2 linked regions of the Homo sapiens genome follow. The protein of the gene in region 1 purifies or fractionates together with the protein of each later gene. This does not show direct contact. Each region holds a gene or a part of one and is shown on either strand. Other genes may lie near its edges.

What was found. Proteins that work in one complex are often made in the same cells at the same time.
Region 2: the proteins of UPP2 (region 1) and CCZ1 purify together in Homo sapiens (affinity purification with mass spectrometry, with the first as the bait; one large-scale study listed by BioGRID). This does not show direct contact.

What each region holds. Positions count from the first base shown.
Region 1 is NC_000002.12:158,108,376-158,111,875, reverse strand, and holds part of UPP2 (uridine phosphorylase 2), read right to left. Parts: intron 1-3,500. UniProt on the Homo sapiens protein: Catalyzes the reversible phosphorylytic cleavage of uridine to uracil and ribose-1-phosphate which can then be utilized as carbon and energy sources or in the rescue of pyrimidine bases for nucleotide synthesis.
Region 2 is NC_000007.14:5,908,733-5,912,232, reverse strand, and holds part of CCZ1 (vacuolar fusion protein CCZ1 homolog), read right to left. Parts: intron 2,199-3,500; coding exon 2,117-2,198; intron 373-2,116; coding exon 311-372; intron 1-310. UniProt on the Homo sapiens protein: Acts in concert with MON1A, as a guanine exchange factor (GEF) for RAB7, promotes the exchange of GDP to GTP, converting it from an inactive GDP-bound form into an active GTP-bound form.

The sequences.
Region 1 (3,500 bases):
CTGTAAGGTCTATATGTCCCACTTCAAGTCGTACAACATTGATTAAAAGTAGATTTTTAAACATTAAATATGTTTACTGTAATCCTTAGAGCAACCACTAAAACAAATAAGCAGAGAAACAAAACTGAAACAAAACAAAGAGATATAGTCAAAATATAACAGATAAATAAAAATGGAATATTTAAAAAATGTTCAACTATCCCAAAAGAAAGCTGGAAAGAGGAATAAAGAAATGGAAAGCAGAGCTTAATACACAGAAATCAAATATAAAATGGTAAACCTAAATCCAAACATATCAATAATTACATTAAATGCAAAGTGTCTAAGCACCCATTTAAGACACAGAGATTTTCAGAATGAATAAACAAACATATGATCCAATTATATGCTGTCTATAATGATAATGATACAGGCAGATTAAAAGTAAAAGAATGGAAAAATATAGACCATGCAAGCTTTAATCTAATGCTGGAATGACTATATTAATATCAAAATAGGCTTCAGAGCAAAGAAAATTACCAGAGACAGAGGGATATTCCATAACCATAAGAGTCAGTTTACCAAGAAGACATAACATTCAAAGTGTATAAAAACTAAAAACAGAGCTTAAAAAATAAAGCAAAAACTGTCAGAAATAAAGTATTAATAAACTCACAAGCATAGTTTGAGACTTCACCTCTCTCAGTAATGCATAGAACTTATGGAAAGGGAATCGGCAAGACTTAAATGTTAGACCTAAAACCATAAAAACCCTAGAAGAAAACCTAGGCAATACCATTTAGGACATAGGCATGGGCAAGGACTTCATGTCTAAAACACTAAAAGCAATGGCAACAAAAGCCAAAATTGACAAATGCGATCTAATTAAACTAAAGAGCTTCTGCACAGCAAAAGAAACTACCATCAGAGTGAACAGGCAACCTCAGAATGGGAGAAAATTTTTGCAATCTACTTATCTGACAAAGGGCTAATATCCAGAATCTGCAAAGAACTCCAGCAAATTTACAAGAAAAAAACAACCCCATCAAGTGGGCGAAGGATATGAACAGACACTTCTCAAAAGAAGACATTTATGCAGCCAAAAAACACATGAAAAAATGCTCATCATCACTGGCCATCAGAGAAATGCAAATCAAAACCACAATGAGATACCATCTCACACCAGTTAGAATGGCAATCATTAAAAAGTCAGGAAACAACAGATGCTGGAGAGGATGTGGAGAAATAGGAACACTTTTACACTGTTGGTGGGACTGTAAACTAGTTCAACCATTGTGGAAGACAGTGTGGCGAGTCCTCAAGGATCTAGAACTAGTCCTCAAGGATCTAGAACTAGAAATATCATTTGACCCAGCCATCCCATTACTGGCTATATACTCAAAGGATTATAAATCATGCTGTTATAAAGACACATGTACATGTATGTTCACTGCGGCACTACTCACAATAGCAAAGACCTGGAACCAACCCAAATGTTCATCAATGACAGACTGGATTAAGCAAATACACCATGGAATACTATGCAGCCATAAAAAGGATGAGTTCATGTCCTTTGTAAGGGACAGGGATGAAGCTGGAAACCATCATTCTCAGCAAACTATCACAAGGACAAAAAACTAAACACCGCATGTTCTCACTCATAGGTGGAAATTGAACAATGAGAACACTTGGACACAGGAAGGGGAACATCACACACTCGGGCCTGTCATGGGGTGGGGGCAGTGGGGAGGGATTGCATTAGGAGATATACATAATGTAAATGACGAGTTAATGGGTGCAGCACACCAACATGGCACATGTATACATATGTAACAAACCTGCAGGTTGTGCACATGTACCCTAGAACTTAAAGTATAATAAAAAATATTTCTTCTTTTCCAACATTAGCCTTTAATTCTATAAATTTCCTCTCAGCACTCTACCCACATTCTGTAGATATAATATGTTGTATTTTCATTTTTCCTCAGTTCAAACTATTTCCTGCCTTCCCCGGAAATGTATATCCTGCTTTGTTTGAGTGGAGAATTTTATAAATGTCCATTAAATTTGAATAGATAACTTCTAAGGATCTTCCACCGTATGTATTAATTGTCTGAATCTTTCTAGTGAGTATGGCAGAGATTGATTAGCTGTTCACCTAAACAGTTTGCTCTTCTTTCTGGGCACCCAGCTAAACTTAACATCTCAGCCTCCTTTCCAGTTAGACAAGGTCATTTGTCTGGGTTCCAGTGACTAGAATTTGAGCAGAAGTAATGGGTACCATTTCCAGTCCTAGCCCATAGAAATCTCCCATCCTACAAGGAGGATGTATTGGTGACCCTACATATTGTCGCTGTCATCTGCTGGACAGGTGTTGACACACTGGGAAACAGCAATTTATGCCTTGAAGGAAACAGTAACAATTATGGAAGGAGCCTGGGTCCTCGAATCACCAGATGTAGGGAAACCATCCATCAACTAAGAACTCCCACCTTGTACCTAATGTGAGTGAGAAGTAAACTTAAATTGTATTAAGCTACTGAGATTTTGCAGTAGCAAGTAGCAAAAATTTTTAAATATGGTAAGAATATGAAGGAAATAGGAGTGATTGCTGGAGTCTGAAGTTTCAGCTTTATACACCCAGAGTTCTCCTTTCTTGGAAGATAATGGTATTAATAATGATTATCATCTCTGTGAAGACAAGCCTGAGTTTTCAGGTACTGATGGATTATGTCCTCTTTTCTTAGCCAGGACTGCTGCCCTGGGATTTAAGGAACTCAAGAAATTGAATGTAGAATGTTCTCATTCAAAGAGGAGAACATGGCTGGAGGAAGGCAAGTTTCTGAGGAAACCATCTATGAGAATAAATCAGACTTTACACGCTGCCTTGAAAAAATTCTACTTCAGATTAAATGGCCAGTTCTGAACATTTGGAGCTAGGTTACCTGCTCCTCAATTTACAAACACACACACACACACACACACACACACACACACACACACACACACGCTTTTGCCTCCTATTCATCAAAATGGCTCAATCAGTAGAGTTGCTGTTTGATGGGATAAAACATGTTTGAAACAGAGCATGTCTTTTTATCCAAAAGATAATTTACTGAAGGTTCACAACCAGGTGGGTGGTGAATGTATAAGGTTGGATAGTGGTTATGACAGACAGTGTGTGAGAATAAGTGCTGAACAAAATCTGGACAGGCAGACGTGAAGGTCTGTTTCCTGGGATTATAACCGAGATGAGACAACTATGTGTGTGTGCGTATGTGTGTGTGTGTCTGTGTGTGTGCGTGTGTGAGAGAGATACATACATGTGAGTCCCCTTATTTTTATCTCTAAAACAAAGCTTTCCATCCCAATAATTTCCCAGAAACTAATACTTGGAGTACTAAAAAGTACTAAAACATAGTGCTTTTGTTTTTTTGTTTTTGTTTTTGTGTTATTTTGTTTTGTTTGAACAGAGAAAGAGCCATTATTTTTTTATCGGAGAAACCTAAGGTTTAATCTCA
Region 2 (3,500 bases), on another chromosome or scaffold:
TAATCCCAGCACTTTGGGAGGCCAAGGCAGGTGGATCACTTGAAGTCAGGAGTTCAAGACCAGCCTGGCCAACATGATGAAACCCTGTTTCTACTAAAAATACAAAATGAATTACCCAGGCATAGTGGCTCATGCCTGTAGTTCCAGCTACTTGGGAGGCTGAGGCATGACAGTCACTTGAGCCCGGGGAGGCGGAGGTTGCAGTGAGCGGAGATCTTGCCACTGCTCTCCAGCCTGGGTAACAGAGCCAGACTCTGAGTCAAAAAAGAAAGAAAACCCAGTATCATAAATCAAAGAACAGAAGTCCTACCTTCCATAGTGTTGAAGATTTCCTGGCATTTCTGCTCTTATTGGAGAATCCCTTCCTGCTAACTGCAAATACATTTAATGTTGAGAATGACTTATCAGACTTTTTATTTATTTTCCAAGCTTTGAAAAACAGCATTATCTACTAATTGGTTCCATGCCATTTGTCTTTTTCTTTTAGAGACAGGATCTTGTTCTGTTGCCCAGGCTGGAATGCGTGCAGCATGATCATGGCTCACTGCAGCCTTGAACTCCTAGGCTCAAGCAATCCTCCCACCTCAGCCTCCTGATAGAGGCATGTGTGACCAAACCTGGCTAGTTTTTAAATTTTTGGCCAGGTGAGGTGGCTCATGCCTATAATCCCAGCACTTTGGGAGGCCAAGGCAGGCAGATTACTTGAGCCCAGGAGTTTGAGAATAGCCTGGGCAACATGACGAGATCCCATCTCTACAAAAAATTAGCCAGGTGTGGTGGCACACACCTGTAGTCTCAGCTACTTGGGAGGCTGAGGTGACACGACCGCTTGAGCCCAGGAGTTTGAGACCATGCGAGTCAACAAAGTGAGACCTCGTCTCTTAAAAAAAAACTTGGAAAGCAGGAGGACAAGAGGGAGGGAACGAACAAGCGAAGAGAGTGAGTTCAACTGAGCCAAAATGATTTTTGTATGTTAAGCTCTGAAAATACTTTGGGGAGAACACAGTGATATCATTTAAAAGTTCTCTGCAGGAAACCGGGAAATTAAGTACTAGAGTGGAAAGCCGGGTAGGCACTAAAACATCTACTGAAAATTAGGTCTCCTGTTGATAGAGGAAAAGACTACACAAGTCGATTGTTTTAAAGATCACTGGCATTTTAAAGGTTCCTAGAACCCGATCTAAAATCCAATTTTTTGGCCAGGAGCAGTAGCTCACGCCTGTAATCCCAGCACTTTGGAAGGCTGTGGCGGGTCAATCACCTGAGGTCAGGAGTTCGAGACCAGCCTGGCCAACATGGTGAAACTCCGTCTCTACTAAAAATATAAAAATTAGCCGGGCATGGTGGCAGGTGCCTATAATCTCAGCTACTCGGGAGCCTGAGGCCGGAGAATTGTTTGAATCCAGGAAGCGGAAGTTGCAGTGAGCTGAGATTGCACTACTGCACTCCAGCCTGGGCGAAAAGAACAAAACTCTGTCCCAATAAATAAATAAATAAATAAATAAATAAATAAATAAATAAATAAAATAAAATACATAAATTAAAAGTAAAGTAAAATCCAATTTTCCTCTACTCAATGACTCACTCCTCTTAAAAACATGCTTGTGGACTGGGGGCGGTGGCTCACGCCTGTAATCCCAGCACTTTGGGAGGCCAAGGTGGGCAGATCACAAGGTCAGGAGTTCGAGACCAGCCTGGCCAACATAGTGAAACCTGTCTCTACTAAAAATACAAAAAAATTAGCTGGGCGTGGTGGCAGGCACCTGTAATCCCAGGTACTTGGGAGGCCGAGGCAAGGAGAATTGCTTGAACCTCTCCATCCCAGGCGAAAGTTCGAGACTCCGTCTCAAAAACCAAACAAACAAAAACACACACAAAAAAACCAACACACAGACACACAAAACGATGCTTTCTGTATCACATCTGAATGTCACATACTGGAGGAGAGCTGCATGTGGTTTTCTGTGCTAATTGATATACAGTGACACAAATATCACAGTAAGACAAAACATACATCAGAAACGATCAGAAACGCCCCCATGCACCACCATCTCACTCCACCTGCCCTCTCTGTGCCCCTGCATGTAATTGTGCGCAGCTATGGTACCCATCATACCTCAGGTTCGATGTGCCTTGGAAAAAGGGAGGTGGTAAGGTATTTGTATAAAATTCTCATGTCATCTTGTTCTAATCCACTCCTGCAACAACAGAAAAGCACTGGGTTAAACGTTTGGAACTGTCTTCTGTCTTTCCACTGCTGTGATAAAGCTCATTAAACAAAAATTTTTTTTTCAAGTCATTTTTAGTAACACAGAATAAATTCTAACTTTTTAAAGTCTAAAGCTACTTAAAACTCAAAGCAATCTATTTTTGTACCTGAGATCAAAATGAGTTTCCTTTTTCCTAAACATAATTCTTAGCATTGAGGTAAATCTGAATTTACGTGGTATACTTTGTCAAACTTTTCCAAAGAATTTGAAGCCCTGGATAAAACTCATTTTTTATTAAAAAAAATTTTTTTTTCTTTTTTTTTTTGAGACAAGGTCTTGCTCTGTCACCCAGGCTGGAAGCAGTGGTGCGATCATGGCTCACTGCAGCCTTGGCCTCCAGGGCTCAAGCGGTCCTCCCATCTCAGCCTCCAGACTAGCTGGGACTACAGGCATGCGCCACCATCAGCTAATTTTTGTATTTTATGTAGAGATGGGGGTCTTGCTACGTTGCCAGGCTGGTTTCGAACTGCTGGACTCAAGCAGTGCTCCCGCCTCAGCCTCCTAAAGTGCTGGGATTACATATGTGAGCCACTGTGCCTGGCCTCATCTTTTTTCATTTTTCAAGAGATGAGTCTCGTCTGTCGCCCAGGCTGGATTACAGTGGTGTGACCACAGCTTGCTGCAGCCACCGATTCCCAGGCTCAAGCGAACCTCCCACCTCAGCCTCCTGAGTAGCTGGGACTACTGGTGCTTTTCTCTTTAACATTATATCAAGAGGCTCACCACCTGACTGCGAAGTTAAGGAAGGTAAAGGGTTAAACTTGAGTCCAGGCACTGGAACTTTATCCTGACCTGCAAAAGGCTACTCCTACAGTCCTGTATTTTACATGCCATTTGAGATAAAAAAAAAAAAAAAGTCACAAGGGATTGGACTCGCTGGTTGAATTCCGTGTAGGATTATGCAGGAAACCTCCAAAGCCACACTGTTTCATTTTAGGAGCAGATGTCTCTTAGCTTCCTGGGTTATATGGTAATGCCACATTCTCTCCCCTAGTCCCCTGGGAAAATATGGGTATGCTGTAGACAGGGAACGTGATCCTAGGTCTCAGAAATGTACATGGATTTTAATTCTCCGGATCTTCGGTGAAGAAAGAGGAGGAGGAGAAAAACAAGCTTTCAGGCAAACCACCTGATCTGAAATGAGGCAGGAAGGAGCAGCACATGGAAAAAGCACAGAGAAACTAGCAGGTATCAGACTCTGGAACCGGTTTTTTAAAAGGAGACAGACAA